7 linked regions of the Homo sapiens genome follow. The protein of the gene in region 1 interacts with the protein of each later gene in a pairwise test. Each region holds a gene or a part of one and is shown in the gene's direction. Other genes may lie near its edges.

Region 1 (3,500 bases):
ACTTTGAAAGTGGGAATTTAGGATGAGGAAGAAGTAGCCACAGGAGGGTAGTAAGGGAGTAACAGTGTTCCAGGTAGGAGAAAGATCAACCTGCCAAAGCCCTGAGACAGGAAAGAGTCTGGCCTGATACTGGAACTGAAAGAAGGCTTTTGTGGAGTGTAGTGGGTGAAGGGGAAAGTGCTGTAACTGAAGATGGAGTAATAGACCTGCCCCCTTCCCACTCCCCGCCCTTTTATATAGATGTAAAGTCCTGGAATGCCTCAGCCAAACATGGGAACATCACCCATTCATTGGGCACATCAGATTCTGATCTGAGGAAATCACCTTGTGTGCTAATCTACTTCTGTCTTCTCTACCTCTTTTTTCCATATTGCTTTTATACCTTTTGCAAAATTAATGAAGAAAGAATTAGCAAAGCTAGTAGTCATTACTTTCTAGAGTTGAACACTTAAGGAAAATAGGCATGGTCTTACTGATTCATCCCATTCAGACAACACAAATCTTGAAGTTGGGTATGTCCCAGTGCTATAAGTAGCCATATATTGATTTCCCATTCCTAAATACATTTGAACCTTTAAAAAATCAATTTGTTTCCTGATTTTTATGATGAATTCTAGAAGTATATTAATAGCCACTATTTATTGAGAGCTTACCATGTGTCAGACCCTTTTTTTCTGAGTACTTTGCGTGCATTATAATCCTCACCACAACTTTGTGAGATAAGTCCTGTTATTGCCTCCATTTTCTTGATTGAAGAACCTGAGAAGTAGAGTGTTAAGGAATTTGCCCCAGGTCCCAGAGCTACTAGGTGGTAGAGCTGGGTTATGAACACAGGCAGTCTGACTTCCAGAGCTCGCGTTCTCTGTCATTTTGAGATACCACCTCTGTGTAATACGTTCCTTTAAAATTGAAGTAAAGTAGATGCCTTCCTGAAGTTTGTAAAGGCATCCTTTGCCAAATGTTTCAAGTTTGGATGAGAAAAAAAGCTGGGTTCAATGTGTATGTGCCACTTACAATCTAGATTTATGATCATGCCTCTTAGTCTCCATTTTCCCAAATTAAATCCATGTGATCTCATCTGCAGTACCCTCTCAGGCTTCAGTTATGTCAGTTCTCCAATGGGAGACCTCATCTAGCTCTGTCGCAGTTCAGGATTAGACTAGATAAAGCCCAAGGTAATTCCCCTTTCCTGAAGCAATGTAAATTCCGTAGTTTTAGCCTGTCCTGTTTTCAGCCTCCTGGAATTGCCTCAAGTGAAGGCATTACTGTTCTATAGCTTTTCATTCACTATGAAAAATGGTCCCAAAATTATCTTCAGCATTCTAATTGAGCAGATAGCCTCATTGCACCTTTTTTCATAGTCACCAATTGCCTAAAATAATTAGCTATTATAAGTGTCCTTCAGTTCCTCCTCTTAATAATTTTGGCTGCTCTTTAAGTTTCTTGACCTCTTTTTGTGCCACAGTACATGCAGAAGTGTGTGTGTGTGTGTGTGTGTGTGTGTGTGTGTGTGTGTGTTTTAATTGTGGTAAGAAGTACTTCATATTTGTTTATTATTTTCTGATCAGAAGTTTCGTGTACATGCATCACGTTTATTTTTCTTTACAAGCCCATTTCAAAACTGTTTTCAGACTTAAAGATTTGGAGACATAGAATATATAAATTGCTTGGCAGAATGAATTCTAATGAATATTAGAGATTTTACACTATACTCAATTCTTTACTTCATTTTGTAGTACAAATAGTAATGAAATAAAAGATATGACGTGAACTCTGTCCTCCAGGAATTTTTCTTTTTTTGAGGCAGAGTTTCACTCTTGTTGCCCAGGCTGGAGTGTAATGACACGATCTCGGCTCACTGCAACCTCCGCCTCCTGGGTTCAGGCAGTTCTCCTGCCTCAGCCTCCCAAGGAGCTGGGATTACAGACATGTGCCACCATGTCCAGCTAATTTTTCTATTTTTAATAGAGACTGGGTTCCACCATGTTGGTCAGGCTGGTCTCAAACTCCTGATCTCAGGCGATCCACCCACCTTAGCTTCCCAAAATGCTGAACAAACCCCCCTCCCAAAGTAAGGCATGAGTCACCATGCCCAGCCCAGGAGTTTTTCTTAAAATATTATTTTCCTTTAAATAATGAATGTACACATATAACATTTGATAACAATATAAAACAGATTATGATTAGGTGCCAAAGTGAGTGAGTGGTGCATGAACTATGTTAGGCTTTGAAATAAGAGAGGCCATGGTGAGCTGAGCATGTCAGAGAGGCTTTGGCAAGAGCCTGGAGCTCCTGGAGGGCAAGGACTCTGTCCCCTTCCTATATGTCCCCAGTGGCCTGTTGGAGCAGGTGTTCAGTAAGTATTGATTATAGAAATGATTGAGACTTGAACTTAAGCTTGAAGATTAAGTAAAATTTATTCAAATCTGAGAGAGGTTTTTTCTGTTTTAATGCCATCTATTGTGCTTTGTTTTTGATTTTTGTTCACTGTGTGAACTGTTTTATACTCATCTAATGAATTAATTTAATAATCATTCAATTTCTTTAAGGCAAAATGGAAAGGAATATGGCTTACAAGGCCCTGCGTGATTCTGCTTTTTTAAATTTTCTTTTTTTTTTTGAGACAGAGTCTTGTTGTGTGCCCAGGCTGGAGTGCAGTGGCGCGTGCCTCCCAGGTTCATGCCATTCTCCTGCCTCAGCCTGCTGAGTAGCTGGGATTACAGGCGCCCGCCACCGTGCCTGGCTAATTTTTTTTTTTTTTTTTTTTTTTTAATTTTTAGTAGAGACGGGGTTTCACCGTGTTAGCCGGGATGGTCTCGATCTCCTGACCTCGTGATCCTCCCGCCTCGGCCTCCCGAAGTGCTGGGATTACAGGCTTGAGCCACCGCGCCCGGCCTGTATTTTTTTTTAGAAGAGACGGGGTTTCACCATGTTAGCCAGGATGGACTTGATCTCCTGACCTCGTGATCCGCCCGCCTCAGCCTCCAAAAGTGCTGGGATTACAGGCGTGAGCCACTGCATGTGGCCTGACCAGTGGTTTTCAAATGCTCTTTAGCTGTGAAACTCTTCCTTGAAATGAAATCTTCTGCAGATATGCATGTGGAAAACAGGTGAAAAGGAACTTTTTTGTTAAAAAAAAAAAAAAGAAGAAGAAAACAAGGTGGGGTGAGGTGGCTTATGCCTGTAATCCCAGCACTCTGGGAGGCCAAGGCGGGTGGATCACCTGAGGTCAGGAGTTTAAGACCAGCCTGGCCAAGATAGTGAAACCCCATCTCTACTAAAAATACAAAAATTAACTGGGCACGGTGGCGCATGCCTGTAATCCCAGCTACTCGGGAAGCTGAGGCAGGAGAATCGCTTGAACTCGGAGGGCAGAGGTTGCAGTGAGCCGAGATCATGCCACTGCACTTCAGCCTGGGTGATAGAGTGAGACTCCATCTCAAAAAAAAAAAAGGATGTAGGCCGGGCACAGTAGCTCACACCTATAATCCCAGCTACTT
Region 2 (3,500 bases), on another chromosome or scaffold:
AGAGTCAGCGAAGGGGAGATAGGGGTGAGGCCGTTTTATAGGATTTGGGTAGGTAAAGGAAAATTACAGTCGAAGAGGGTAATTCTCTGGCAGGCAGGAGTGGGGGTCACAAGGTGCTCAGTGGGGGAGCTTTTTGAGCCACGATGAGCCAGGAGAAGGACTTTCACAAGGTAATGCCATCAGTTAAGGCAAGGACTGGCCATTTTCACTTCTTTTATGGTGGAATGTCATCAGTTAAGACAGGAACAAGCCATTTTCACTTCTTTTGTGATTCTTCAGTTACTTCAGGCCATCTGGGCGTATATACGTTCAGGTCACAGGGGATGCGATGGCTTAGCTTGGGCTCAGAGGCCTGACAGTCCTGCCTTCTTACAGTAATAAGAAAAATAACATAAAATAGTATTGAAGTGTTGGGGCAGCGAAAAAAAAATTTGGGTGCGGGGGGTAGCATGGAGAGATAATGGGCGATGTTTCTCAGGGCTTCTTCGAGCGGGATTAGGTGTGGCGTGGGAACCTAGAGTGGGAGAGGTCAACTTGCAGGAGGATTTTGTGGTAAGGGGTGATATTGTGGGGTTGTTGGAAGGAGCATTTGTTGTATAGAATGATTGGTGATGGCCTGGATACGGTTTTGGATGAATTGAGAAACTAAACGGCAGATACAAGGTCCGAATAAAAGAAGGAGAAAAATAGGTATTAAAGGACTAAGAATTGGGAGGACCCAGTACATCCAATTAGAGAGTGTCCAAGGGCGTTCAGCATAATTACTTGCTTGGTTGGCAAGTTTTTGGACCCTATCCTTGAGTTTTCTTATGTTGTCATACACCAGGCCAGATTGATTTAGGTAAAAACAACACTCTTCATTTAAGAATATACAGAGTCCTCCTTTTTCAGCAGTGAGTAAGTCAAGGCCTCGGTGGTTTTGGAGGATAACTGCAGCTAAAGAGTCAACTTGGGCCTGGAGGACTGATAAAGTTTGTGATATGTCTGTGATGCTAGCAGAGAAGACACTAGAGAGGCTATGGAAGGTCGTGACAGAGGTTGAAATGCCTCCTATTCCAGTACCGAGAGCAATAGTGGAGGCAGAAAGTCCTAAACCAACAAGCAAGGGAATTAGTGGAATAACTCTTTTTTGTCGTGTTGGTGTCATGAGGGGAACAGGGAGCTCTTCGGTCCTATTTGCAAATTGAATTTTGGGAGTAAGGAAAACTAGTGTGCATGTACCTGTCCAATTAGCAGGTAGACACATGGAGGTAGAGGATCCACAGAGGAAGAAGAGACCTTGTGCGAGGCAAAACTGGAGATGCAAAGTAAAAAGATGAGGAGTGCTGAAAGGGGTGTCTTGTACCCAGACTCCTGGGGATCCAGCTAGGGCGGCAGCCACCAGAGGTTGTAATGGGGACTGGTGGGGTAACTGCGTAGAGGGGGAGGTTCGATTTTCATGGTATATGAGAAAATGTTGAGTGTCTATGAGCTACCTTTCACTGTTATTTTCGGGGCTGGGTATAAGTAAACAAGAAGAGGGCCTGGGAGGAGGGTCTGATGAGCAAGGGGAAGGTAGCCGAGGATGGAGTGAAATACAGGGTAAGTGTCTTCCTAAGCAATAATTACTGCTAATATTTTTAAGTTTGCCAGTATTGATAGAGGGCTTTTCTGTAATACGGAGCTGGAAGGCTCCAATTGTTTCGGTGACATGCATAGCTGGACTTTGGAGATGAAGAGTAAAGGAACATGGAGAAGGTGAAGGGTTACTAGGGGAATTCCAGTGGGTCTTTGCCGAGAGATACATAAAGGAGTGGCCACAGGAATAGGAATAGTAGTTTGTGTTGTGAGAGGTCCAAATATGGGGGGAGTAGAGTTGATATAAGGAGAAAGGTTTTTTAAGTAAGTGTGGAGGAGGGCGGCAGCTTGCTGATATGAAATGTCTGGGGAGGTCTTGCTGGACCTGTCTAGAAAGTAAATGAGTTCTTCAGGAGGGTAAAGGTGAGGGCTGTTAAAGGAAGTTCAGAGGTATAGGGAGACAGATGTTGCCCAGTCTACATGTAAGGTGGGGGCAGCTGTGTAGGCGCTGGAAGAAAGGGAAATGCAAAGCCAGCAGTTGTTCAATAAGGAGAGATTAGAAATGGCTAGGAGAGAATAAGTAACGTTGGTAGTGTGGTGGAGATAGCTGGGGAGAGGTAGAGGGTGACATAAGAATGGGAATGATCCCTTCATTCTATTAGGTCTGTTTGTCCTTACCCTACTTTTTGCAACAGGGCTTTACGAAGTTACCCCCACTACTTGGACCGAGCCCCAAAAACTAGTCATCCCTACTATCTTCTGTCTAGTCATACTCCTATTCACCATTCTCAACTACTTATAAATGCCCTACTCTTGTTTACACTGCCGGTTTACACTGTTTTTCCAAGCCATCACAGCTGATATCTCTTGGTGCTATCCCCAAACCGCCAGTCTTAACTCCCTCTTAGAGTGGATAGGTGATCTTTGCTGGCAGGGGACCCTCCAATACTTCCACCCTGATGAAGTTCTATTCTTTACTTTTAAGTTTAACTTTTTGATACTTAACTGATCATTTTGACATTTGTTTTATTGTATGAGATGATATATTATGACTTTCCAGATAAATGTATAATTATTATAAAAGGATTTTTTTCTAATCTACTAGTTCGTATTTCCTCCTTTATCATACGTGAAAATTTTATATATTTTATGTTCTACTTATTGACACTGTCTTCATTTGGCTTATCTGTCTGTTTTACAGGTATATTTCCCAAACTAATAGATATTGTAGCTTTACCTCATATTTTATTGTCTCCCTATCTGTAATGTCTGTCACTGTGTTGGGTATCATTGCAATGACACCTTAGAAAAATTAAGGCGGCTTTGGTAGGTAAACATGGAATCATGTACATGGCAGTAAACATTAATTAAAGTAGGTATAAATACTGTATATTGAGCTACAATATATTTATTTCCTATTCCTTTTCTTAGCTGAGGTACAATTCAAAATTTGAACCTTTAAAAGTAAACAATTTCATGATGTTTAGAACCTTCAAACGTTGTGAACTACCATGTTTATCTAGTTGAAAAACTTTTCCCAAAAATAAATCCCTTACATACCCAACAAGCAAATCACTCTCCATTCTCTCTCCCCTTAGCCTCTGACAACTACAAATCTTCTTTCGGTCTATATGGATTTACCTATTCTGGATTTTCATGGAATAGAATCACACAATATTTGGCCTTGGGCTTCTTTCACTTAGCATAATGTTTTTAAAGTTCATCCACATTTTATTCCTTTTTATGGGTGAATAATAGTCCATTGTGCATGTATATCTATAAATATAGATACATATATACTTATATGTATCTCTATATCTATAAATACATATATATTTATATGTATCTCTATATCTATAAATATTTATAGTTTTATGTATATCTGTAAATATAGATATGCACAATGTTTGTGTGTGCAGAGCTTAAAGGTCAGCCAAAGGTGA
Region 3 (3,500 bases), on another chromosome or scaffold:
CCAAGTTTTAGCATCTACCACATCCCAGAAAAAGCCCTATCTGCCAAACTTTCATATGTGCCTTATTTTCCTGTGCCCACATTGTTGCTCTCCCTGGCTGGAAACTTAATTAGTTTTTATAGACTTTTAAAATTCAGTTCAAGCTTTACTTCACTGAAGCCTTTCCAGGCTAGGTTAACTTCTCTGTACATCTCCTGCATACTTTTATGAGAAAGCTTATCAAATTATTGTAATTGGGCCAGGCGTGGTGGCTCACACCTGTAATCCCAGCACTTTGGGAGGCCAAGGCAGGCAGATCACCTGAGGTCAGTTCTCGAGCAGCCTGGCCAACACGGTGAAACCCCGTCTGTGCTAAAAATACAAAAATAGGCCAGGCGTGGTGATGTGTACCTGTAATCCCAGCTACTTGGAGGCTGAGAGAGGAGAATCAGTTGAACCTGGGAAGCGGAATTTGCAGTGAGCCCAGATTGTGCCACTACACTCCAGCCTGGGTGACAGAGTAAGACTGTCTTGAAAAAAAAAAAATTATTGTAATTATTTTTTAGCTTTTTTTCTTTCTTCTTTTTATTTAGAGATGGGATCTTACTATGTGGTCCATGCTGTTCTTGAACTCCTGGCCTCAAACGATCCTCCCATCTTGGCTTCCCAAAGTGCTGGGATTACAGGAATGAGCCACTACGCCTGGCCTTTACTGTTTGCTTCTATCACTAGAATCTGAAACACTTAAAGGCAGTGACTATCTTTTTTTTTTTTTTTTAATCTCCTAAACCTAGAACAGAGCTCCACACAAATGTGGCATTTACCAATAGATGAATGAAAGCAGCAGCAGGACTACTTGACCAACTGGATTGAATTTACTCCACCAGATTCAGAGATCACTCTAGGATTTTAAGCCTAAGACTCTGAGTTGAATGAAATTCTTTAAAAATATGCAATATTAACATAAGGCTACCACGCTACAGAGACACTAAGGATGCTTCAAAGATTACTAATAGACTCTGTGCCTAAGAAACTTAGTGGTACCATTAACAGATACAGAGAAGTTGGGAGAAGAGTCAGTTGTCAGTTGTGAGGGTAAAGATGAACTCCATTTTAAATATGTTGAATTTGCTGATAGTGGGAGATATTTATATCTATATCTATGTCTATCTATCTATATATATAAAATATGGAAAAATCCACCAAGAAGTCACACAAATAGAATTAGGACAAAGAAGATGTAGGCTGGAGGTACAGGTTTAGGAATTGTGGCATAAAGCTGAGAACTAAAATCTTACAGAATCAGGAACAAAGAAAAGTAGGTAAGGGTGAGGACAGAATATCAATTAACCATATTTAGGAGGCAGAAGAAAAAGAGCTAGTGAGAGTAACATGAAAGGAAGACTGATTACAAAAAGCTACTTGAATATTAGTGAAGGAACAGTAGTGTCTAATGTGGTCAAGGAGGGGAGGGGAGAGAAGAAATAAAGAACAATTAGATTAGGTAACAGATGATCACTGGTGTTCTTCAAGGCAGGAGAATCAATATATTTCTAGTAGAAAATGGTGAAAAAAGGTAGAGAACACATGGATCCAGCATATAGAGCCTATGCGTTTTGAGAAGTATGACTAAGTGAAGTACTGAAATATAATGAAGCTAGAGGGGCAGCAGAGCCAAGTACAGAACTTGTATTAATAAAAGAAGAGAGATCACTGCTTATGAGGTCCAAATGCTGTATGATGGGTTAGAGTATATCCAAGAGTTGTTACACCAAACCTACAGTGTATCAAGTCTAAATTAGGAATAATAACTACTAATCAACTACTACTAATTAGGAATAATGTCTACCTACTTTATGCCAGGAATCATAATGAAAAGTCAAATTTTTAACTAGACACCAATGACGCCTAACTGTCTTTCTCTTTCATTATAAACCCGCTATAGATAACGAGGAAATATTCTGAAATGGATCCCAAATATTTCATCTTAATTTTGTTTTGTGGACACCTGAACAATACATTTTTTTCAAAGACAGAGACAATTACAACAGAGAAGCAGTCACAGCCTACCTTATTCACATCATCAATGTCACAGGTATTGGCTAATTCTCAAAACACAACAGGGAATCCTTTGGGTCAACCAACACAATTCAGCGACACTTTTTCTGGACAATCAATATCACCTGCCAAAGTCACTGCTGGACAACCAACACCAGCTGTCTATACCTCTTCTGAAAAACCAGAAGCACATACTTCTGCTGGACAACCACTTGCCTACAACACCAAACAACCAACACCAATAGCCAACACCTCCTCCCAGCAAGCCGTGTTCACCTCTGCCAGACAACTACCATCTGCCCGTACTTCTACCACACAACCACCAAAGTCATTTGTCTATACTTTTACTCAACAATCATCATCTGTCCAGATCCCTTCTAGAAAACAAATAACTGTTCATAATCCATCCACACAACCAACATCAACTGTCAAAAATTCACCTAGGAGTACACCAGGATTTATCTTAGATACTACCAGTAACAAACAAACCCCACAAAAAAACAATTATAATTCAATAGCTGCCATACTAATTGGTGTACTTCTGACTTCTATGTTGGTAGCTATAATCATCATTGTACTTTGGAAATGCTTAAGGAAACCAGTTTTAAATGATCAAAATTGGGCAGGTAGATCTCCATTTGCTGATGGAGAAACCCCTGACATTTGTATGGATAACATCAGAGAAAATGAAATATCCACAAAACGTACATCAATCATTTCACTTACACCCTGGAAACCAAGCAAAAGCACACTTTTAGCAGATGACTTAGAAATTAAGTTGTTTGAATCAAGTGAAAACATTGAAGACTCCAACAACCCCAAAACAGAGAAAATAAAAGATCAAGTAAATGGTACATCAGAAGATAGTGCTGATGGTTCAACAGTTGGAACTGCTGTTTCTTCTTCAGATGATGCAGATCTGCCTCCACCACCTCCCCTTCTGGATTTGGAAGGACAGGAAAGTAACCAATCTGACAAACCCACAATGACAATTGTATCTCCTCTTCCAAATGATTCTACTAGTCTCCCTCCATCTCTGGACTGTCTCAATCAAGACTGTGGAGATCATAAATCTGAGATAATACAATCATTTCCACCGCTTGACTCACTTAACTTGCCCCTGCCACCAGTAGATTTTATGAAAAACCAAGAAGATTCCAACCTTGAGATCCAGTGTCAGGAGTTCTCTATTCCTCCCAACTCTGATCAAGATCTTAATGAATCCCTGCCACCTCCACCTGCAGAACTGTTATAAATATTACAACTTGCTTTTTAGCTGATCTTCCATCCTCAAATGACTCTTTTTTCTTTATATGTTAACATATATAAAATGGCAACTGATAGTCAATTTTGATTTTTATTCAGGAACTATCTGAAATCTGCTCAGAGCCTATGTGCATAGATGAAACTTTTTTTTAAAAAAAGTTATTTAACAGTAATCTATTTACTAATTATAGTACCTA
Region 4 (4,134 bases), on another chromosome or scaffold:
CCCCCTCTGCTTTAATAAATGTGGAACATTCAACATTTGGCATATGAAGAGTAACTGGGTACATCTGAACTATTCTGTGCTCTTCATTCTGTTCCCTAAAGGGACAGATACAAAGAGAAATCACATAAACTATAATCCAGTTGAGTAGATTTAATTTCCTTTTCCTATTTGGTCTACATGCACCACCTGGTGGTAAAGTAGTGCATTTCACATAGAGAGAGAGAGAGAGAGAGAGAGAGTGTGTGTGTGTGTGTGTGCGCGCGCGCGCGCGTGCACGCGTGTGTGTTTTGAGGAGTATATAACATGAAAAAGATAATTTTAATATACTTTCTTAATACTGATTTAGATAGACAACACAATTATTCTACACCAAGAATCTAATACAACACTTGAGCACTACTTCATGTATAACAGAACAGGAAGTAAAGGAGAGAACTCATGCTGGAAAGTAAAATAGCTTTCACTTATTTACCTTAGCAATACATATTATAATTCCATCTCTAAATTAACATTTATTGTTCCAATATTCTTATTGAGGCAAAAATCAAACACTGATAATCAATGTGAAACCATTTCCTCCTTTTTAAAGAATAACAGCTTTTAAAAGTAGGTGCCCTGTTCCTTATATTAGTAGTGAGTATAAGTCACAGATCACAGAATTGTAAAGCACCATAGAGGCATTAGACCAATACACCAATTTTACAAATGTAGCAGCTGAGACTCTGGAACAGCAGGTAACTTGCCCGAAGTCATACTGGTCATTAGTGGTCCAACACAAATAAGAATCTAGATCTTCTCACTTTCAGCCTAGGAATATAATACATAAAAATTGTACTTATATTCATATTCAATGAATTGTCTCTGTATGATGTGATAATATTCAACTTATCTACACAGTGCTTTAAGGCACTCATATGTTAGTTAACACATACCAGTTTTGTTCTAACATTCTGAGCACAAAGAAGTAATTGAAGAAATGCATGTATCATAAAGCTATGGAAAAGATTTTCTAAGTATTAAAAAACCCTATATATATGTTCAAATGAATAATTTTCCAAGTATAATACAACTGCTATATTGCAAAGAAGGTTTAAAAAATTCCCTTTCCCCTTCTAACTGCTTCAGAACCAGAGATCTGTTTCTACAAAGTAGGTACCCACTTGTAGATTTAAGCATAAAACATGTTCATAGCTCCCTCTCATGACCATTGAATACTATACAAGCCTCCTTTTATTCTCGCTGTTGTATTCAACTAACAGCTCACTGGCTAAGTTTTAATTGCTTCCAATGAGGTCAGCAAAGGTATTTATCGAAAAGCCCTGAATAAAAGGCTCACACACACACACAAGCACACACGCGCTCACACACAGAGAGAAAATCCTTCTGCCTGTTGATTTATGGAAACAATTATGATTCTGCTGGAGAACTTTTCAGCTGAGAAATAGTTTGTAGCTACAGTAGAAAGGCTCAAGTTGCACCAGGCAGACAACAGACATGGAATTCTTATATATCCAGCTGTTAGCAACAAAACAAGTAAGTTACTGTTATTTGTCTTTTAAAACAATGCTGAATGTTTTCTAAAAGTTTATCTCTTTTTCTGATTTTAGTACTGAGCAGGAAAGTAAAGTTACAAGATTTTTGAGCCATGTAACTATAGTAATTATGCTGTAGAACATAAAGATAAGGTTGAAGTTCTCCAGAGCAATCCTGACATTTAACTTAAAAAACCTGGGCAGTTCAGGAGAAAATAATTGATTAACCACAAATGTAAAAGCATATAATAAAGAAGTCTAGGGAGAAAGCAGTTACACTTTGTTAGCAGTAATTGTAAAAACTTAATTTAAATCAATAGTTCTGAGTGCAGTATGGTTCTCACAAAATAGCAATTGGAATGAATGGTACAGTCATATTCTGTTTTGTCTCTACTCATGCATAAATTTTATAAATCTACACATAAAGTGGTAAAGATTTTGACATCCTCTGTGAAGGCTGTTTTAAATGTATCTTCAAAGAATAACCTATACTGTATTCTAATGCTACTACTTACCCACTAAAATTTACACATACAATTTTTTATCTTCCTCTCTCCTCCCCTCCCTATTCTTAATCTCTCATTGCAAACAGAAGTCAAATAGCAAACAGCGTCACAGCAACTGAACTTACTACGAACTGTTTTTATGAGGATTTATCAACAGAGTTATTTAAGGAGGAATCCTGTGTTGTTATCAGGAACTAAAAGGATAAGGCTAACAATTTGGAAAGAGCAACTACTCTTTCTTAAATCAATCTACAATTCACAGATAGGAAGAGGTCAATGACCTAGGAGTAACAATCAACTCAAGATTCATTTTCATTATGTTATTCATGAACACCCGGAGCACTACACTATAATGCACAAATGGATACTGACATGGATCCTGCCAACTTTGCTCTACAGATCATGCTTTCACATTATCTGTCTAGTGGGTACTATATCTTTAGCTTGCAATGACATGACTCCAGAGCAAATGGCTACAAATGTGAACTGTTCCAGCCCTGAGCGACACACAAGAAGTTATGATTACATGGAAGGAGGGGATATAAGAGTGAGAAGACTCTTCTGTCGAACACAGTGGTACCTGAGGATCGATAAAAGAGGCAAAGTAAAAGGGACCCAAGAGATGAAGAATAATTACAGTAAGTAATTTTAAGTACTGCTCATGAACCTTAGCAATCTGTTAATGGATCAATTTTCAGGTGATATGTTTTCTCATCTTCCTTTTGCTTCTTGGAAAAAAAATTAAATAAAATGTCACCTAATTTCTCTAAATTGAACTATGTTGAACTATGCCCCTAAAAATATCTCTTTTAACAGGGCAAATCTACTTACATTATAGTTGGACCTGATAATCCAAGCCAATTTGAAAATATATACTCCTTGTCCTGAAAATGCTCATAAGTTAAGCAAAATGTAAATAATATTATTCACACCAAAATGTGACTTAATATTGTCTAAGCAAAACTCATTAAGATATCTAATTTAGAACTTCATAAATTATCACTAAAAGCTATTTATCACTAGTTTAAAGAGTAGGGAAATTATTTTTATTAATTTGATTTTCTTTGAAATAATATTTTCATGATGTAAATTAAAATACTTAATCTGTGCTAAGATATGCATTCCTTTGCAATTGTGTATAATGATAAAATAGAAGGGAATCTGTGGTATCCTTATTCATTTGAGTCATAATGAGCTTGTATTAAGTTGATGACTTATCAACTTAGGCAGAAAAACAGATCTCTCCTAACGTTTTCCTTAACTAAATCTTTTATGTCATAAAAGTTCTGTGCTATCTTAAGAAAAATGTAAAGGTGAGGGGAAAAAAGTGGGCTGGAAGAGATGGTAATTCCATGTTTTTCAATTTAAAGCCTTACATTTTTCCCAAGAATCAGTTATTCTTCTTATGTTAAAATATCAGGGTTGTGTTTTGCATTTAATGGTTATGATGAATAACCAACTTCAATAGTATTAAATGTAATGGAATAAGATACACACCTCAACATGTACATTAAGGATTTAAAATACTTAGTAAAAATAAATTTTGTTTACATTACTAGCACTCAGAAAACATTGTTATTAATATATAATTTCATATTAATTGTTTTAAAGTCATTTGAAAAAGAATGCATGGGGAGACTGGTGTAAACATGTGCAAATCACAGTGCCAGGCTTGCAGCAATTACTCAAACTTTTGTTGCCTGTTTACTGAATGACTTTTAGGGTTCTGAACTAATCAACCAATCAATGGGAATTTCAGAGAATTATGTTTCCAATATGAAAATGAGAAGACCTTCTTTTTAACCATAATTGATATAGAATGTTAAGGCCATTTTAATGACTGGACAGTTATGGTTTTATTATTATTATTTATTATTATTACTGAGATTAATAAAGGTATCATGTTAGTTCTAGAAGATCATTCTTATTATACTAAAGTTTATCTAAGGAAATGACTATTTGGAGAAAATTTTTTTGATATCTACTTCTATATAAGCAACAGAATTTGGCTTATAATTAATTTATTTAAAAGTTGCTCAGATTTATCATGGATAATATCATGGATATAATAACAATATTATATATTATCATGGATA
Region 5 (4,123 bases), on another chromosome or scaffold:
TCTTTCCACCCCCTACACCCCACTGTCTTTTAGCAGCTGGAAGTTTAAGGCCTGTGGGAAATTGAAGATTAATTTTTAGTCAGTGTTTTTTTTTTCTCTTTTCTTTAAATCACCAACTCTGAGAATTCTAGATGTTACTCTGCATATGTGTGCTCCACAACTATCAACTTTCACAATTTGGGATCTGCTACAAAACGGGCTTCCGAGCTCCCTTCCTGTCCCTCCACACAGGTCTCAAGCCTCCTCTGTCTCTGCTCCCTCTGCACGTTTCTGCCTTTCCCTTGTCCATGGCCTTGGTGGGACCCACCATTTTTTGCTCTTCTTTCTAGAGAATGAGTCTTGTCTCCAACTAGATGGGAAAAACCACTCAGGACAAGACCATCAGAACAGCACTGGGCTACTGATTTGTATGCTGTGCATATGGTCACTGTTCACATAATAACAGGTATTTTCTTAGTCATACTGTGCGTCAAGCACAGTGCATACTGTCCTGGGCATTTTTACTCAACACCAACACTGTGGAGCACCCATCATGAGCTTCTGTAGGCTGGGACTCACAACTATGTGCATCTCTCTTCATCAGGCACCTTGTCAAAAGCCATCCACACTATGGGGATAACGCTGCAAGTATTTGGTGAACGTGTGTGTGTTAAGTACCACTTAATTTTCCGCTCATTGGGCACCATTTACAAACAGTGGAAGATCTGTGAAAATTCCCATGAGGCAGCACAGCAGCATCCAGAGGCCACCACACACGTCTCATGGCTACTCTCCACCCTGCGATGATGGTCTGCACAGCGCTTCTTCCTGGGGTAGCTCCCAAGTAACCTCCATTCAGCTTTCCTCCTGCTGTTCCATGGTGCTTGTCTTCCAGCAGAATCTCTCTCACTTTAACAATTAAATGGACAACCCAGGAAACCTACACTTGGAATTCAGCGAAAGAAATGTTAGTCTCCTGTGGAGTGTCTCATTAGGTTAAAAGAAAGTTACTGAAAAGTCTGATGGGAAAATGAATTTCTACATTTTGCTTAGGGCCCAAAAAGAATCCCAGATTTTATTTCCATTGAAGTGCATATAGTAGTATTTATTTTGATTCAGGGAGATGCGGTTCATTTTTAATATTCACAAAAGCTTCTTGACATCAGATCCAAAGCTTGTGCTGTGGAGATATGGTTGAACATTCTCACACAGCATCACTGAGCCAGAGAGCAACCTGAGAAACCTCAGAACTCCATGTGCGGGAAGATTCCATCCGACTTCATAAAATAATACCTGGACCTGAGAACTCTACATGTGGGAAGATTCCATCCAGCTTCATAAAATAATACCCAGATCTTCAAGGTTGGCAAAGAAGAGAAAAGCTCCTTGGGAACTTAGTTACCAGGTCTTATAGCACCAGCTCTGTGTCCTCAGAGTCGCTGTCATCAAGGAGACCTCTCACTGGTCACCGCCGCAGCCCCCACATGGACCAGTATGTGTCCACAGCTCCTCCCCGATTCCCTATAGCACAGCTGGGAACATTTAAACAAGACTCTGCAGGAATGGGACGGATATTCAAGGGGAATTTGCTGCAGAAGAAAGCACTTACCACAGTGAGTTTATGGGTCTTTAACTTTGGGTTATGAGAGAGACGTATCACTGCACAGGTATGGTCCTACAAAGCACTCTTTTGCCCCAATCTCCTGTGAGTGCTCTGTCTCTCAAATCCAGATTCTACGAAGTTTAAGATGAGACGTCAATCCAGAGCTCTTTCTTTCTCAGTTCTGGCCAAGACAACCTCCCAATTCCAATTCCCAATCTGAGGAAGAGCTGCCCCTTTCAGAAAAGGTACTGGGCCCTCCCCTTGACATTACATCAGTATACAGGCCAATGAGTCAATGATCTCTCCCCTACAGAGAGAGCCTCTTAACACAGATGCAAGGATACCTCCAAATGCTTTAAGCCTAGGTGCACCTGCAACACCTACAAACTCAACCTACCCAGACAAATTTGATACTGCACTCCTAGAAGAAAGTTTCTTTTCCTTCATTACAGGACAGAAGCAAAAGTTGCAACAAATTTAACCATTCATGAACCAGTAGCCAATGTGCAGGCAACAGATGGCATTTATAGACACCCCATTTGCAGAGGTGATGGGGTGATCAATAGCTTCTGAAAAGGAAGTTTATGACCCAGTCATATATCGGAAAGGTTAAAGTCCTAAGACAAAATTTCTGGAATGTCTTCTCCTGTAGCACAGGGTTCCTCTTAGTGTTTCTGACTGTGAAGAGGAGATGGATGGGAGCAGGCAGGTAGCATCTCCTTCCTCTGTCTTGATCCCCACTGCTGCTTCTTTATTTCCTTTTCCTTTTTCCATTTTTTTTTTTTTTTTTTTTTTTTTTTTTTTTTTTTTTTTACATTTTAAAAGTAATGGTCTAGGGCCGGGTGCAGTGGCTCATGCCTGTAATCTCAGCACTTTGGGAGGCCGAGGCGAGGAGATCACAAGGTCAGGAGATTGATACTATCCTGGCTAACACAGTGAAACCCCATCTCTACTAGAAATACAAAAAATTAGCCAGTCGTGGTGGCGGGCACTTGTAGTCCCAGCTACTTGGGAGGCTGAGGCAGGAGAATGGTGTGAACCCGGGAGGCAGAGCTTGCAGTGAGCCGAGATTGTGCCACTGCACTCCAGGCTGGGTGACAGAGCGAGACTCTGTCCCTCAAAAAACAAACAAACAAACAAACAAACAAACAAATAAATAAATAAAAGTAATGGTCTTAAAGTTCTTCAGTCTTAAACAAATTATAGAAGGCTTTAAAAGCTGGTTTTGTGCATTTCATATGTGATAGTTGTAAGTCGATTTGAAGTCCTTCTAATACTTTATAAATTTCATCAATCAACATCCAGGTAGGTAGAATCTTAGGTACATGATGATGGTTATGAATTAATACTAGGCCGGTGTGTGCTGGGTTTGTCTCCAGGCCTTGCGTGAGGGCTGTGATGGGGTGCATGACTCAGGAGGCACTCGGTGGGCAATCAAAAGAGGCAATGGTAACACAGCACCTCAAACATTTCAGGGCAGCTGGTCTGCACCAGGTACACAGTAGGCATGAGGAGTGCAAAGATGGGAGAGGCAGGGGCCCCCACCTCAGGGAGCACACAGATACAGAGACTGTCCCTGTCCCCTCCATCTTCAACTCTTGATTTCTTCCATCTTTCTTAGGTTGGAGGTTAACTTGCTGCTGAAGAGATTTCAGCAGGATGGGAACTTACATATAATCTGAATAATCAAATGTAAAAGAGTTCATCTTCTGGGTCCCACTTCTGCTATTTTCATCCACTGCTTCCTACCCATGTGCTAAGCATTTTCATGCAGCCTCGTCTGTCTTTTCAATAAGAAAGCCAGTTGATAACTGATTCACACTTAGGTGGGCTGTTAAACCACAAAATGTTGACAAGGAAAACAACACTTAATAATAAATCATATGATGGTAACGTTTCTGTAGCCAGTAGGAAAATGGTTTCAGGTGTGAACAATTCTCACTACTTCATGGATCATACGACATAGATACTGTTCATTAATGACTCTAAAGCCAATACAGGGCATGAAACTATAAGGAATTCCTTCCTGCTATTGTCCAGGCAGTGGAATGGGACTTTTTTTTTCTTTTGGCCAGTGTTCACTGGTTCCACTATGTTTCTGATCAGATCTTCACATTTAATTTCTTCTTAGGTATTCATGCATCTAGGAGTTCTTATGTACTGGAAACTCAGTATCTCCTGTTTGCAGGCAGTGACTGGGTGTTCATTAAATCCAGATATCTCTGGATGGAGGCTGTGGATAAGCTTGGTGTCCAGTGGAATCTCTCTCATGCACAGACGACGAAAATCCAAAAGCTCACATTGGTTCCAGTACAACAGACAGCCTGTTCCACTGGAGTTGTGTCAGCTGAGGTGTGCACATTTGTATCATCTGTCACAACTATTTACCCCTCTCTTTTCTCAGTAACAGCAGATACACTCGCCCATCGCCATGAGACTTGAGGGAGCTGATCCACTACCAGGCTTGGCCTGTGGCTTGCTTTGCCCACAACAGCGTGAGGAGTGTGATGTGCAGCACATCTGAGCAGAAGCTTTAAAAGC
Region 6 (4,015 bases), on another chromosome or scaffold:
ATAGGCCTGAGTCTTGCTGTAGTAAGTTAGCAACTGGCCTTATAGCATGATGAGGATCTGACATGGATGGTGCTGGGGGTCTAGATATTCTCAATAAAGAATCATTGGTTTGATAGCAGAAGGTCTCCTGGCCAACGGCCTATCATCCCTTTGCTTGTCTTCAACACACTGGGAACATATGGGCTCGAGCTTTTTGCTTGTTCCTTAGCTATCTGTGTGGTGCTCCTCCCTCTCCAGGCAGGTGGATGGAATATATAAAATCCAGACCCTGAAGGCTTCCTAGTAACACAGAATATGCATACAATTTCATATATACATTCGATAAGACATGTACACTCTCACTCATATAAATAATTATTTCCATCTGCATCTAAATAAAAACCAAACACAATTCTCCAAATTTACATGGGACCAAGAATCCAGCTTTTTAGTTGCCTGTATTTGTCCCCTTAAGAATTTTACTACTAACCACCTCCTCTCCCACCTCTTGATTTACAGACGACATTCCCCCTTAATGCTTTGACATAAAGGTGGGCACACAAGAGTGGGTTAGGACATTGAAACAAATCATTCTAAAACTTCTGTTATATTGACATGTAGAAGAGACCAAGTGATATGTGAATAAAAGGCATATTATAAAAAAGAGCTAATTCACATTTAGTTTGGCATGTGCCTATGAAGAGCCTTCCTGGTTAGCCCTACTCCTGCTTCCTAGGACAGAGGAAAATTTTCCCCACCACATGGGAGCACAATTAAATATAGAATCCCAAAATCTAGACTCTATATAAGACCCAAATTTCCAGATCATTAAAAAAATTAATGCGCTCCTTCCTATGGGAGAGACTGCATTCTTATAGGAATGTGGCTTTATCTATGGCTTCAGTAGACCCAACTTTTCATACAAGTCTAACATCCCTATAAGGAACATACACACAGTATCACACGGAAACACACATCCCACATTTAAAAATATGGTTTTTATTTACTTTTTTGTTTTCTTACTAGTTCCATCCAGAGAACTTTGTCCCTGTTTTCTGGAAAATTATTTTATTTTATTGTAGAGCCCTGGACCCCTAAATATGTCCTCCTTCCCCAGCTGGCCCAGGGTGACTGCGAGGATAGAGTTGACATCACAATATCCCTTTTCTGAGGATTCATGCCCCTGGTGGGTGGGGTAGGAGGAGGGGTAGCCCTAGGAGAAGTCATCACCACTTTGTCCACCATGGGTGAATTATGAATCAGTAGCTATGCCAGGCCTCAGCTGGGCCACATCTGGAGAACTGGGGTGAGGGCACAACATCACAAAATATCTGGCCCCAGTCTGGTCACTCATCCCTTTTAGGGCAACAAGGAAACTATCCTGTGGCCTGAGAGCACAATACCTGAGACAAAGGCCAGCAGAAACATTTGTCTGCCCTCACCCTTTCTGCCCCAGCTTCCACCTGCTCCCCATCTGCCCACCCACTAAAGCCCATGTGGCATGCCATCTCTCGAACATCCAGGATGTCCCAGAGTGGATGTCCATCAGGTCTGCTGGCAGACAAAAATATCTCTTCAAGTGCCACTCGAGTGATAGTGAAGACTGCAGGCAACCAGAAAGACTTTATGGTAGCTGATGACATCTCGGTAAGGCAGTTCAAGGAGATGCTATTGGCTCACTTCCAATGCCAGATGGACCAACTAGTGCTGGTCTTCATGGGTTGCCTTCTCAAAGACCATGACACACTGAGCCAGAGGGGCATCATGGATGGCCACACCATCTACTTGGTCATCAAGTCCAAGCAGGGCTCCAGATCTCTAGCCCATTCCTTCCGGGACCTGCCAACGAATGATCCCTGCCACCGGGACAGAAACACCAAAGGAAACAGCAGCAGAGTGCACCAACCAACTGGTATGAATCAAGCTCCAGTGGAACTGGCCCACTTTGTGGGGTCTGATGCACCCAAAGTGCATACCCAAAACTTGGAAGTGAGCCACCCAGAGTGCAAAGCACAGATGCTGGAGAATCCTAGCATCCAGCGGCTTCTGTCCAACATGGAGTTCATGTGGCAGTTCATTTCAGAACATCTAGACACGCAACAATTGATGCAGCAGAACCCAGAAGTTTCCCGCCTTCTTCTTGATAATTCTGAGATCCTATTGCAGACTCTGGAGCTGGCCAGGAACCTTGCTATGATCCAAGAGATAATGCAGATCCAACAACCTTCACAAAACCTTGAGTATCCACTGAACCCACAGCCATATCTGGGCTTAGAGACAATGCCAGGTGGGAATAATGCCCTGGGTCAGAACTATGCTGATATCAATGATCAAATGCTGAACAGCATGCAAGATCCTTTTGGAGGAAACCCTTTCACAGCTCTCCTGGCAGGACAAGTGCTAGAACAAGTCCAGTCTTCACCCCCACCTCCACCACCATCACAGGAACAACAAGACCAGCTCACACAGCATCCTGCAACCCGAGTCATCTATAATAGCTCTGGTGGTTTCTCTTCAAACACCTCAGCCAATGACACCCTTAACAAGGTCAACCACACTTCCAAAGCCAACACTGCTATGATTTCCACCAAGGGCCAGAGCCATATCTGTGCCACTCGGCAGCCAGCTTGGATACCAGCCTTACCTAGCATAGAGCTTACCCAGCAGCTTCAAGAAGAATACAAGGATGCCACTGTTTCTCTAAGTAGCTCCAGACAGACATTAAAGGGTGATCTCCAGCTGTCAGATGAGCAGAGCAGCTCCCAGATCACAGGAGGCATGATGCAGTTGCTTATGAACAACCCCTACCTGGCAGCTCAGATTATGTTGTTCACAAGTATGCCCCAGCTGAGTGAACAGTGGAGGCAGCAGCTGCCCACATTCCTGCAGCAGACACAGATTTCTGATCTGCTTAGTGCTTAGGCAACCCTAAAGCATTCCAAGCAATATTGCAGATTGAGCAGGCCCTCCAGCTGCTGGCCACAGAGGCTCCTGTTCTTCTGCCTTGGGTTGCACCCTACCTATGGGGCCTGGGTTGGCTTCCTGCCCCCAGCTGCAGCTATCCTGACACAGTGCCCTGTTCCTGGAATGTTTCAGATACAGCTGAGCCCAAGGGACCTGAGTGCTGCCACAAGCCTGGAACAGTCCTGCAGAGGCTACAATCCCCGGATGGGGACCCTTCCCACCCTCTGCAAGCTCCTGAGATTTGTTTTAGCAAACAGATGGATTCTCTCCAGGCCATGGGATTTGGGAACCACCATGCCAATCTACAGGCACTCATTGCTACTGAAGGGGACACCAATGCTGCTATCCGCAAGCTCAAGAGATCCCAGAGATTCTAACCACCATGCCTACTTGTTTGCTTGCTACCTGCCTGCTGACCCACCTGACCATCTCATTTGCCTTTTGCACCTTTCCTGATGCTTCCAGCCAGGAGAAGTCCTGGAATAAGAGTTATCAACCAATGTGTCTTGTACTGAATAATAGATCATTGGTCGTGGCTGAAACATCTGTCAATAAAATGGCTACACTCACTTGCTGCGATCTGAGGTTTGGCTTTACTTCTTTTGCAAAAAAAAAAAGAAAAAACTAGCTGTGTGAGATTTTTGTCTCACCTACTATATGTACATTAACACACAAACCACATGCATATATTAATATAGAGATAAAAATAATGTTTTTATCTCTAAAACATGAGCATTTTGAGCATGGTATATGAAACTTGAGCATGGTATATGAAACTGATTATTTTGAGCATGTCACCTTGGACAGGTGTGTGTATGTACACAAGCTCACATAGTAAAAAATTCACATATACAGGCATATAGAGTCCACATATGAGTACACACAGCCATGTGCAAACACAGATGCAAATACCTAGAGACACATAAATAGACCCATATGTAGGGAAAACAATCATAACATGCTCAAACAGAAAGGGAAACATTTTACATAGATAGGCCCAGATATTTAGTCATAAAGACTGCCTGAATTTCTCAAACCCAAATTGTTCAAGTTTGAAAGTGGAACAGGAATA
Region 7 (3,500 bases), on another chromosome or scaffold:
CCTCCAGCCCCGCTTCACAAGCTCAGGGCTTTACGGGAATTATCGTATTTAAAGCTCGCAGCCAGCCTGGGAGAGAGTTGCTGTTTTCCTGACTTGAGGACCCCAGCCCCATGGGAGGGGTTAAGTTCTGTGGCCAGTGTCACACCACCTGGTCAGTGGTAGAGCCCATCAAGACCTCAGGTCTGGCCGACTCCATGTCTCGTGCTGTCATTCCACCTCCTGTGCAGAGCACAGCCCACGAAGCTGCTGCTTGAAGCCTTCTGGGTGATCTTTGAGTAGTTTTTTAAAAATATAGCAGCTTTATTAAGATATAATTTGCATTCCCTATGATTCACCCATAGAAAATTTACAATTCATGGGTTCTGAGTATATTCACAAAGTTATGCAGCCATCACCACAGTCAATTTCAGAACATTTTTATTGGCACAAAAGAAACCGTGTATCCCTTAGTTCTCTCTTCAGTCCCCACAGCCCTAGACAGCCAACTGCTAATGTACTTTGTGTCTCTTGATTTGCCTAATCTGGACAATTTCCTGTCAATAGAATCATATATGTGTGGCCTTTTGTGTCTGACTTTTTTTTTTTTTTTTTGAGAGGGCATCTCGCTCTCTCACCCAGGCCAGAGTGCAGTGGCGCGATCTCAGCTCACTGCAGCCTCTGCCTCCCAGGTTCAAGCGATTCTCCTGCCTCAGCCTCCCGAGTAGCTGGGATTACAGGCACCCACCACCACACCTGGCTAATTTTTGTATTTTTAGTAGAGACGGGGTTTCATCATGTTGGCCAGGCTGGTCTTGAACGGCTGACCTCAAGTGATCCACCCACCTCGGCCTCCCAAAGTGCTGGGATTACAGGCGTGAGCCACCACGCCCGGACTGTCTGGTATCTTTGACTGAGTATGAATACCTCAGGGCTCATCGGGGTTGCAGCATGTGTCTGTACTGCATTCCCTTTAATGGCTGATTAATCCATCCTGTGGATAGACCACATGTGGATTATTCATCATCAGTTGATGGGCATTTGGAGTGTTTCCATGTTTTGGCTATTATGAATAATGCCGTATGAACATGAAGCTTTTGTGTGGTCATATGTTTTCATTTCTCTTGGTTAATACCTAGGAGTGGAACTGCTGGGTTATATGGTAATCTATATTTAACCTATTGAGGAACTCCCAGACTTCTTCCAAAGTGGCCATACCATTTTCGACTGCCACCAGTAGTTTATGAGGGCTCCAGTTTCTTCACATCCTTGCCAACTCTTGATACTACCTTTTTCATGATACCCTTCCTAGCAGGTGTGGAGTGGCAGCTCGTTGTTTGGGTTTGCATTTCCCTAATAACTGTGATATCCCTGATGATATTCAGCATCTTTTCACATGTTTCATTGGCCATTTGTATATCTTCTTTGAAGAAATGTCTATTTGGGTCCTTTGCTCATTTTTTAATTGAGTTATTTTTATTATTGAATTGTAAGAGTTTTTAAAATCTATTTTATTAAAGATATATGATAATGGATATATGATTTGCAAGTTTTTTTTCCCAATTCTGTGGGGTTTTTCACTTTCTTGCTGGTGTTTAGTTGAAGCACAGAAGTTCTTAATTTTGACAAAATCCCCATTTTATTTATTTTTTCTTTTGTTGTGTGTTCTTGGTATTATATCTAGTAACACTTTGCCTGACCCAAGATCTTGAAGATTTACTGTTACATTTTCTTCTCAGAGTTTTATCGTTCTTAGTTCTTACGTTTAAGCCTGTGATTCATTTTCAGTTAATTTAATTATTGCATATGGTGTGAGGTAGAGCTCCCACTTCATTCTTGTGTGTGTGCGGTTATCAAGTTGTCTCAGTAATCACTTGTTGAAAGAAAGACTGCTTTTCCCCCACTGAATTGTCTTGGCACCTTTGTCAGAAATCAGTGTGCTGTAAGTATGAGGGTTTTTAGTGAGCCTGAGTGTTTTAGTGAGCCTGAGTCCCTTGGCTGTGAATGTCCCCTATGCTTCTCTTCAGTACCCACTCCCTACCCCAGTGGGACAAAGTGGCTGGAATGGGCTGGAGTTGAGTAGCTTCCTTCTCCCACGTGGAAGTCTAGAGCTTACTGGAGTTGGGTGTTTCATTCCCCCAGGTCAGTTAGGCTCAGATAATATGCCCGCAGGAGCTCTGGGTAATGCGCTCCTCGTGAGGGCCGGCCTGGTTAAGGAGAATAGAGCACTCTGGCCTGTTTCAGAATGGTTCCTTTCCCCGCCACACTGCTGGAAGCACAAGCCGATTTTTCTCTGATGTTCACTGAGAGCCTTTCTCTAATATTCACTGAGAGCCTGGTTGAGCTCCTAGGGGTAAAACTCATAAGTATGGGAGTCCCTTATGACTGGGGCAGGTTTTTTCTTTTTCTTTTTTTTTTTTTTCTTTTGGTGTTGGAGTTTTGCTTTTATCGCCCAGGCTGGAGTGCAATGGCGCAATCTTGGCTCACCACAACCTCTGCCTCCCGGGTTGAAGCAATTCTCCTGCCTCAGCCTCCCGAGTAGCTGGGATTACAGGCATGCGCTACCACACCTGGCTAATTTTGTATTTTTTAGTATATCGGGGTTTCTCCATGTTGGTCAAGCTGGTCTTGAACTCCCGACCTCAGGTGATCAGCCCGTCTCAGCCTCCCAAAGTACTGGCATTACAGGCATTAGCCACCACGCCTGGCTGGGGCAGGTTTTTAACTCTCAGACTCATCCACACTGAGCCTCAAACAGTTCATAAATGACAGGGTCAGGCTCTCCCACCCTGACACCAGTTCCCGTGGTGATGTCTGCCCAAGCCTGTCCTGGTGAGCCGGGACTCTCTGTATTGGGCTGTCTGTCTCCAGGCTTAAGGACAGTGATTTACACTCTGTCCTCACCTCTCCTATGGATCCAAGAAGAGCTGATAACTTTTCAGTCTGTTTAGTTTTTTACTTGTTAGGACTAAGTGGTGACTTTTAAGCTTCTCACGTGAGGAACAGAAAACTGGAAGTCTTCTAATACAGATGCTTGAAGGTGTACATTTCTTCTAAGCACTGCTGGAGCTGCTTCCCATAAGTTTTGGTATGCTGTGTTTTTGTTTTGTGGCAAAGCATTTTCTTTTTTTTTTTTTTTTTTTTGAGAGACAGTCTCGCTCTGTCGCCCCAGGCTGGAATGCAATGGCATGATCTTGGCTCACTGCAACCTCCACCTCCCAGGTTCAAGCGATTTTCCTGCCTCAGCTGGAAATCACCTCCTTGCCTCACCTCCCAAGTAGCTGGAATCACAGGTGCCTGCCACCACACCTGGCTAATTTTTGTATTTTTAGTAGAGATGGGGTTTCACCATGTTGGCAAGGCTGGTCTCAAACTTCTGACCTCTGGTGATCTGCCTGCCTCGGCCTCCCAAAGTGCTGGGATTACAGGTGTGCGCCACCGCGCCTGGCTGTCCAAGCATTTTCTAATTTGTGTTGTGGTTTATTGTTGGACTCACTGGTTATTTAGGAGTGTGTTGTTTAATT

What was found.
Region 2: the proteins of DESI1 (region 1) and KLRF1 interact in a two-hybrid assay, tested with the Homo sapiens proteins (one large-scale study listed by BioGRID).
Region 3: the proteins of DESI1 (region 1) and EVI2B interact in binary tests that used the Homo sapiens proteins (3 or more experiments, as listed by UniProt).
Region 4: the proteins of DESI1 (region 1) and FGF7 interact in a two-hybrid assay, tested with the Homo sapiens proteins (one large-scale study listed by BioGRID and IntAct).
Region 5: the proteins of DESI1 (region 1) and SMIM21 interact in binary tests that used the Homo sapiens proteins (3 or more experiments, as listed by UniProt).
Region 6: the proteins of DESI1 (region 1) and UBQLNL interact in binary tests that used the Homo sapiens proteins (3 or more experiments, as listed by UniProt).
Region 7: the proteins of DESI1 (region 1) and GOLM1 interact in binary tests that used the Homo sapiens proteins (3 or more experiments, as listed by UniProt).

The regions. Positions count from the first base shown.
Region 1 is NC_000022.11:41,614,544-41,618,043, reverse strand, and holds part of DESI1 (desumoylating isopeptidase 1), read left to right. Parts: intron 1-3,500. UniProt on the Homo sapiens protein: Protease which deconjugates SUMO1, SUMO2 and SUMO3 from some substrate proteins. Has isopeptidase but not SUMO-processing activity. Desumoylates ZBTB46. Collaborates with UBQLN4 in the export of ubiquitinated proteins from the nucleus to the cytoplasm.
Region 2 is NC_000012.12:9,833,981-9,837,480, forward strand, and holds part of KLRF1 (killer cell lectin-like receptor subfamily F member 1), read left to right. Parts: intron 1-3,500. UniProt on the Homo sapiens protein: Functions as an activating receptor involved in immunosurveillance upon binding to various ligands displayed at the surface of myeloid cells.
Region 3 is NC_000017.11:31,304,055-31,307,554, reverse strand, and holds part of EVI2B (protein EVI2B precursor), read left to right. Parts: intron 1-1,924; 5' UTR 1,925-1,945; coding exon 1,946-3,292; 3' UTR 3,293-3,500. UniProt on the Homo sapiens protein: Required for granulocyte differentiation and functionality of hematopoietic progenitor cells through the control of cell cycle progression and survival of hematopoietic progenitor cells.
Region 4 is NC_000015.10:49,421,908-49,426,041, forward strand, and holds the start of FGF7 (fibroblast growth factor 7 precursor), read left to right. Parts: upstream 1-1,334; 5' UTR 1,335-1,533; intron 1,534-2,124; 5' UTR 2,125-2,390; coding exon 2,391-2,676; intron 2,677-4,134. UniProt on the Homo sapiens protein: Plays an important role in the regulation of embryonic development, cell proliferation and cell differentiation. Required for normal branching morphogenesis. Growth factor active on keratinocytes.
Region 5 is NC_000018.10:75,424,904-75,429,026, reverse strand, and holds the start of SMIM21 (small integral membrane protein 21), read left to right. Parts: upstream 1-1,323; 5' UTR 1,324-1,463; coding exon 1,464-1,592; intron 1,593-2,365; exon of another isoform or gene 2,366-4,123.
Region 6 is NC_000011.10:5,513,900-5,517,914, reverse strand, and holds UBQLNL (ubiquilin-like protein), read left to right. Parts: upstream 1-1,215; 5' UTR 1,216-1,473; coding exon 1,474-2,901; 3' UTR 2,902-3,522; downstream 3,523-4,015.
Region 7 is NC_000009.12:86,037,059-86,040,558, reverse strand, and holds part of GOLM1 (Golgi membrane protein 1), read left to right. Parts: intron 1-3,500.